Homo sapiens: one gene and its partner. The protein of the gene in region 1 purifies or fractionates together with the protein of each later gene. This does not show direct contact. Each region holds a gene or a part of one and is shown in the gene's direction. Other genes may lie near its edges.

Region 1 (3,694 bases):
CAAAGCCAACCATGCCCAGCCCCATCCCAGCACCCCCAGCCCCACGACCAGCGTTCTGAATTCTGACAACACCATGAGCCTGTCTTTAAACTCATGGAAGGATAACCACCTTCACGTTTTGAAATAAATGTTTCCTGTTGAAATGATTTTAGATATACAGAAATATTGTAAAGGCACTACAGTGTCCTCCTACACCTTCCATCCAGCTGCCCCTAATAATGACGTTTTGTAATAGCATGGCCCATAAAAAATTTAGGCCGGGTGTGGTGGCTCACACCTGTAATCCCAGCAATTTGAGAGGTCGAGGCGGGAGGTTCAGGTTCACTTGAGTCTAGAAGTCTGAGACCAGCCTGGGAAACATAGGTGGACCCTGTCTCTAGAGAAAAGTCAAAGAAATTAGCCAGGCATGGTGGCATGTGCCTATAGTCCCACCTAGTCAGGAGGCTGAGGCAGGAGGATTGCTGGAGCCCATGAGTTCCAAGAAGCAGTGAGCCATGATTGTACCACTGCACTCCAGCCTGGGTGACAGAGTGAGACAATATCTCTTAAAAAAAATTAAGAAATGTAATGGGAGTACAATCCTATTAACTAAATAATAATGTGAACTATTATCTAAGGTTATTAAGGCTATAATTGTCCCATTTTCGCCTAACTTCTCATACCTGTCCTAAGATCCCATCTTGGACTCACCCTCTGCCTTCAGCTCATGCCTCTTCAGCTTCCTGCAGATGGTCCAGTAAACACACACCTGGGCTGAATGGTAGAGCTGATTACTCATACACAAGGGTAGACCTGTGGGCAGGGATTTTCAAACTTATACAGTCAATGAGTTTTCCATGGTGTTCTGGAGAGCACCCTTTAAGAAACACTTTGACAGTGAATCTAGGCCTCAATATCCATCAGCTGCTCTAGCTTGAATTTCTTAAATTTTTTTAAGAGATAAAGTCTCACTCTGTCACCAAGGATGGAGTGCAGTGGTGCAATCATGGCTTACTGCAGTGGTCCCATAAGATTATAATACTGTATTTTTAGTTGTACCTTTTCTATGTTCTAACATGTTTAGGTACACAAATACTTACCATTGTGTTACAGTTGCCTACAGTGTTCAATACAGTAACATACTGTACAGGTTTGTAGCCAAGGAGCAACAGCCTATACCATACATAGCCTAGGTTTGTGTAGGTACACTCCGTGATGTTCATACAAAGACAAAATCACCTAATGATGCATTTCTCAGAATGTAACCTCATCATTAAGCAATGCATGTACTAAAATTAGCTAGATTTTAAAACTTCCGATTTAGGAATAAGATGTCTTTAAAAAAAAAAAACAGAAGCAATCAAGTGGGTGTAAATTAGACAGATAAGAAATTAACACATTCCTATCTGTCCTTCCAGTTCACAACAAAGATATGAGTTGGCCTGAGGAGATGTCTTTTACAGCAAATAGTAGTAAAATAGATAGACAAAAGGGTAAGTCTCCAGTATTATTTTTTAAAGAGATTATTTTAAATGTATTTTTTTTCTTCTTTCAACTATTAAAGTGCTAACAACTTTTGGTTTTCTAGTTCAAAAGTAATTAGGGCCCTTCTTTTTCTTTTTTCCTGAAGCAGCATTTGATGTTGGCAAACCCACCATCAAATTATTTTCTAAATTTCTTTCTAACTCTGCAATTTAATAATTTATATGTTTTAAAAGACATGCTAGAAGAATAATTGTTTGAATTATTTTGAAAAATCATAGCAATTAAAAAGAATAATTGCTGCTTCTGGGTTACAAATGAGCATGGATCATCACTGTTGCCAGACATACCATGAAAAGCCTTCTCTAGCATTTCAAAGACCTGCTAGAGAATTATTAGCACCATTTAGCTGATTATGAGAGTTATAAAAAATCTTTTCATTGAATATAAGTAACTGTTTGTGCCATGGCATATTACTACAGCTAAGCTTTGGTTCTCATATTGTTTGTTCCAGTTCCCACAGAAAAGGGAGCCACAGGTCTAAGCAACCTGGGAAACACATGCTTCATGAACTCAAGCATCCAGTGCGTTAGTAACACACAGCCACTGACACAGTATTTTATCTCAGGGAGACATCTTTATGAACTCAACAGGTAAACTTTCTTGAGTCACTGGCCTCTTAACCTGTGACTTTGATATAAACCCACTATCACCTAAATTTCCTCTTTTTTCACCCTGCGGGAGAAAGATTTTATCTTATTTGCCCTATTTAATATGAAATAGGCCAAGGAATACATCTCTTGTTTCAAAAAGAAAAGATATTTTGATGTGAGATGCTAGGCATCTTTGCCCACATGATTGTGATTTATGAGAATCTTTGGCAACAAATTTTCCTCTCAAACTTCTAGGACAAATCCCATTGGTATGAAGGGGCATATGGCTAAATGCTATGGTGATTTAGTGCAGGAACTCTGGAGTGGAACTCAGAAGAGTGTTGCCCCATTAAAGCTTCGGGTAAGCAGGTTAAAATAATATAAAAGTATTTAATTCCTAAATAGTTGTTTAATCATTTTTCTCTACTTGTTTTTTGTGTTTAGCCTTTTAGCTTAATGAACGTTTTTGGATCCTTTACTTGGTATAAACAAGAGGCCAAATTCTTTTGCTTGTTTAAATATTTGCAAAATACTACTGTATATGCAGTGGGTAGGATAAAGACCAAAGGTACACTCTAAATTTGGGATGTCATTCATTTTACTAATTTGTCAAACATCTTATATGAAGAGTAAACCTTTTTTGGTAATACTTCACTATTAGCAGTATTCTAACTGCAAGGTGGACCTCAGAGTCTTATTAATTACATCCAATCCAATACATTTTCAACATAACTAAGATAGTTATATCTGTAGAATACAAAGAAGTAGGCTGGGCGCAGGGGCTCATGCCTGTAATCTCAGCACTTTGGGAGGCCGAGGTGGGTGGATCACTTGAAGCCAGGAATTCAAGACCAGCTTGGGCAACATGGCAAAACCCTGTCTCTACTAAAAAAAATTATCAGCCCCCCGCCCAGCCAGCCGCCCCATCCGGGAGGGAGGTCGGGGGGTCAGCCCCCCACCCGGCCAGCCGCCCCGGCCTGGAGGGAGGTGAGGGGGTCAGCCCCCTGCCCGGCCAGCCGCCCCGTCCGGGAGGTGAGGGGCGCCTCTGCCTGGCCGCCCCTACTGGGAAGTGAGGAGCCCCTCTGCCCGGCCACCACCCCGTCTGGGAGGTGTACCCAACAGCTCATTGAGAACGGGCCATGACGACAATGGCGGTTTTGTGGAATAGAAAAGGGGGAAAGGTGGGGAAAAGATTGAGAAATCGGATGGTTGCTGTGTCTGCGTAGAAAGAAGTAAACATAGGAGACTTTTCATTTTGTTCTGTACTAAGAAAAATTCTTCTGCCTTGGGATCCTGTTGATCTATGACCTTACCCCCAACCCTGTGCTCTCTGAAACATGTGCTGTGTCCACTCAGGGTTAAATGGATTAAGGGCGGTGCAAGATGTGCTTTGTTAAACAGATGCTTGAAGGCAGCATGCTCGTTAAGAGTCATCACCACTCCCTAATCTCAAGTACCCAGGGACACAAACACTGCGGAGGGCCGCAGGGTCCTCTGCCTAGGAAAACCAGAGACCTTTGTTCACTTGTTTATCTGCTGACCTTCCCTCCACTATTGTCCCATGACCCTGCCAAATCCCC
Region 2 (3,694 bases), on another chromosome or scaffold:
TTCCTTATTTAGGTCAATAATCATTTAAACATAATCTCTTCAGAGATTTTCAGCCTGGGACCACTGTTTATTTTTAAGAATTGGCTAGAGGTTACTAAGCGATATAAAATTCAAATTTCAAATCCATTAAAGGGTAGGCCCTTGGTTACAAATTCTTTTTTTTAAGAATTATTTTTTATATCTAGAATTTAGGCTAAGACAGATAATCTTTTTTTTTTTTTTTTTTTTTTTTTTTGAGATGGAGTCTCTGTTGCCTAGGCTGGAGTGCAGTGGCGTGATCTCAGCTCACTGCAACTCTGCCTCCCAGGTACAAGTCATTCTCTTGCTTCAGCCTCCCGAGTGGCTGGGATTACAGGCGTGTGCCACCATGCCAAGCTAATTTGTGTATTTTTAGTAGAGAAGAGGTTTTGCCATGTTGGCCAGACTGGTCTTGAACAGCTGACCTCAAGTGATCCGTCTGTCTCGGCCTCCCAAAGTACTGGGATTACAGGCATGAGCCACTTCGCCTGGCCCAGAGAACGCCTGGCCCAGAGAATCTTCGCTGTCATATTTTGTCAGTGTTCTACTGGTTCTCTGAGGATTTAGGTATAGTTCCCAGTTTCAGCTTCTCTGCATCTCTTAGGTCTAAGGTCTCATCTCTGAGCAACCATTAAAACCCAGTTGTGACCAGGCATGGTGGCTCACTCCATGGGAGGCCAAGGAGGGAGAATTGCTTGAGGCTGGAAGTTCAAGACCAGCCTAGGCAACCTAGTGAGACCTCTGCAGTAAATACATAATCTCTACAGTAAATAAATAATTAGCCGGGCATGGTGGTGCGTGACTAGAGTCCCAGCTACTCAGGAGGTTGAGGCAGGAGGATCTCTTGAACCCATGAGTTCAGTGCTGTACTAAGCTATGATCTTGCCAGTGCACTTCAGCCTGGGCAACAGAGCAAGACACTGTCTCTAAAAAATAAAAAATAATAAAAATTTAAAGTGATGAAAAATAAAAAACCAGCTTCCTCATTACTAAGGGAGCTTTGCTCAGTCGTTTCTAAATTTATTTATAGAGTGAGAGTTTTAAAATCATCTTATCTACTATATTGCCAGAAATTAAAGTTGGCAACTCTTTTAAGTAGTTTGTTTCAGGCTGGGCATGATGGCTCACGCCTGTGATTTCAGCACTTTGGGAGGCCGAGGTGGATGGATCACCTGAGGTCAGGAATTTGAGACCAGCCTGGCCAACGTGGCGAAACCCCGTCTCTACTAAAAATACAAAAATCAGCTGGGTGTGGTGATGTGTGCCTGTAATCCCAGCTACTCAGTAGGCTGAGGTGGGAGAATTGCTTGAACTTGGGAGGCGGAGGTTACAGTGAGCCGAGATTGTACCATTGCCCACCAGCCTGAGTGAAAGAGCAAGACTCCGTCCCCCCACAAAAAAAAAGAAGTTTGTTTTGGAAGTATGGAAAAATGTTTTCATGTTCAGGATAGAATCAAGACCAGAATTTCTGATGAGAATAAGCTAGTTTATTCCCGAAAAAGCGACTCTGCCCCCAAACTCTCATGAAAACTTACTTTAACAGCCACAGAGACAACAGGCAACACTTGTTACACTAAAAAGGCCAGTGACTCTGAAGGGCTGAGAACAAGACCTTGACCTGCACCTTGGCCTCACTGCGCGACCTTGGGCGTGTCCTTAGGCCTCTGGGCCTCAGTGCCCTTTTCAGCAAGCTGAAGGAGCTGCTTAGGTTTCCTGTGGTGGGGGTTGGGGGGGGCGGTTCCTGCTTTTTTTTTTTTTTTTTTTTGAGGCGGAGTCTCGCTCTGTCGCCCAGGCTGGAATGTAGTGGCACCATCTTGGCCCACTGCAACCTCTGCCTCCCGGGTTCAAGTGATTCTCTGGCCTCAGCCTCCTGAGTAGCTGGGATTACAGGCACCCGCCACCATGCCCGGCTAATTTTTTTATTTTTAGTAGAGGCGGGGTTTCGCCATGTTGGCCAGGGTGGTCTCGAACTCCTGACCTCAGGGGATCCACCCGCCTCGGCCTCCCAAAGTGCTGGGATTACAGGTGTGAGCCACTGCGCCCGGCTGGTTCCTGCTTTACGTGTCAGTGGCTCTAACCTCTTTCCCACTGCATGTCTGTGCCAGCTGCTTTGCCAAGCTCCTTTTGACCTCTCCTCCTGGGATGTGCCTCCCACACTTAGCCCCTCCCTCCCCTCGATCCTCACCCCCTCCCTCACAGTGCCTCTCTGTGAAGGAAATTGTCCTTCTCACAGGCCATGGGTGGGAGATGAGGGGTTTGAGGGTATGGAGGGCAATGATAAGCGAGGAATGCTCTGGGAGGTCCCACTTCAGAGGATCCGAGGTGGAAGTGGTCGAACTCAGGGGTTTAGACCCCCAGCCTGGGTTTGGGCTGCTGGACTGCATTGCTCCTCAAGGCTAGTGGGGGAGAAGGGACGGGCAATGTGTGTGACGCGGTGAGGTCCTCCTTTACAAGTGGACTCGGTGGCTGGGATGGGGAGAAGTTGGGGGCTCTGCGAGGGCTGTGGGAGGTACGTGGTTCCCAGCTGGTACTCATAACCCAAAAACTGCCTTAAGATTACTGGTATGTCCTGCTCCTTCACAAACCCCTGAGAACTATGTTTGGAAGCTTACAGCTTGGATGGTTGGAGCCAAGAGGTCACTGGATTTGTCTCATGTTAGGGGAAGGTGGGGTTGTGACCATGAGCCTCCAGAGGCACCAGAAAGTCAATCCTGCCGTTGCTCCAGTGTGTGAGGAGCTGCCAAGACTGTTTCTTTCAGAAAGAGCCTGAGTTGGGAAGGGAACAGGAGAATAGTGACCTACATTATATTGTATATGCGTTTTTAAAAATTTTTCATTGTGGTAAAAAAGACCACAAAATGTACCATCCTAACCCTCTTGAAGTATCCAGGTTGGTAGTGTTACGTATATTCACAATGCTGCGCAGCAGGTCTCCAGAACTTCTTCATCGTGCAAAACCGAAACTCTGTACCTGTCAAGTCACAACTCTGTGTCTTTCTCCCACGAGCTCCTGGTAACCACCATTCTACTCTGTTTCTATTTGTTTGACCACTTAAGAACATTTTGTAAAAAAAATTTTTAGTAGAGATGAAGTCTTGCTAACTCCTGGACTCAAATGATCCTCCTGCCTCAGCCTCCCTAAGTGCTGGGATTACAGGTGTGAGCCTCTGCACCCTGCCGACTACTTTATTTTTATTTTATTGTATTCATTTATTTTGAGACAGAGCCTTGCTCTGTCACCCAGGCTGGAGTGCAGTGGCGCAATCATGGCTAACTGCAGCCTTGACTTCCCAGGCTCAAGTGATTCTCTGCCCTCACCCTCCAGAGTAGCTGGGACTATAGGTGCGAGCCAGCACACCTGGCTAATTTTTTTTAAATTAATTTTTTGTAGAGATGGGGTCTCCCGATATTGCCTAGACTGGTCTGAAACTCCTGGGCTCAAGGGATCCTCCTGCCTCAGCCTCCCAAAGTGCTGGGAGTATAGGCATGAGCCACTGTGCCTGGCCTAATGTGACTGCTTAGATACCTCGTCAGCGGAATCATGCAGTGTTTGGGTTGTTTTGTAACTGGCGTGTTTCACTCAGCATAATGTCCTAAAGGTCCGTCTGTGCTGCAGCACGTGTCCCGGTTGCCTTCCTTTTTAAAGCTCCTATTTCGCTGTAGGTATACACCACAT

The links. The genes of interacting proteins can lie anywhere in the genome.
Region 2: the proteins of USP6 (region 1) and TEAD4 purify together in Homo sapiens (affinity purification with western blotting, with the first as the bait; one study listed by BioGRID). This does not show direct contact.

Annotation. Positions count from the first base shown.
Region 1 is NC_000017.11:5,140,028-5,143,721, forward strand, and holds part of USP6 (ubiquitin carboxyl-terminal hydrolase 6), read left to right. Parts: intron 1-1,397; coding exon 1,398-1,472; intron 1,473-1,975; coding exon 1,976-2,114; intron 2,115-2,369; coding exon 2,370-2,475; intron 2,476-3,694. UniProt on the Homo sapiens protein: Deubiquitinase with an ATP-independent isopeptidase activity, cleaving at the C-terminus of the ubiquitin moiety. Catalyzes its own deubiquitination. In vitro, isoform 2, but not isoform 3, shows deubiquitinating activity.
Region 2 is NC_000012.12:2,990,254-2,993,947, forward strand, and holds part of TEAD4 (transcriptional enhancer factor TEF-3), read left to right. Parts: intron 1-3,694. UniProt on the Homo sapiens protein: Transcription factor which plays a key role in the Hippo signaling pathway, a pathway involved in organ size control and tumor suppression by restricting proliferation and promoting apoptosis.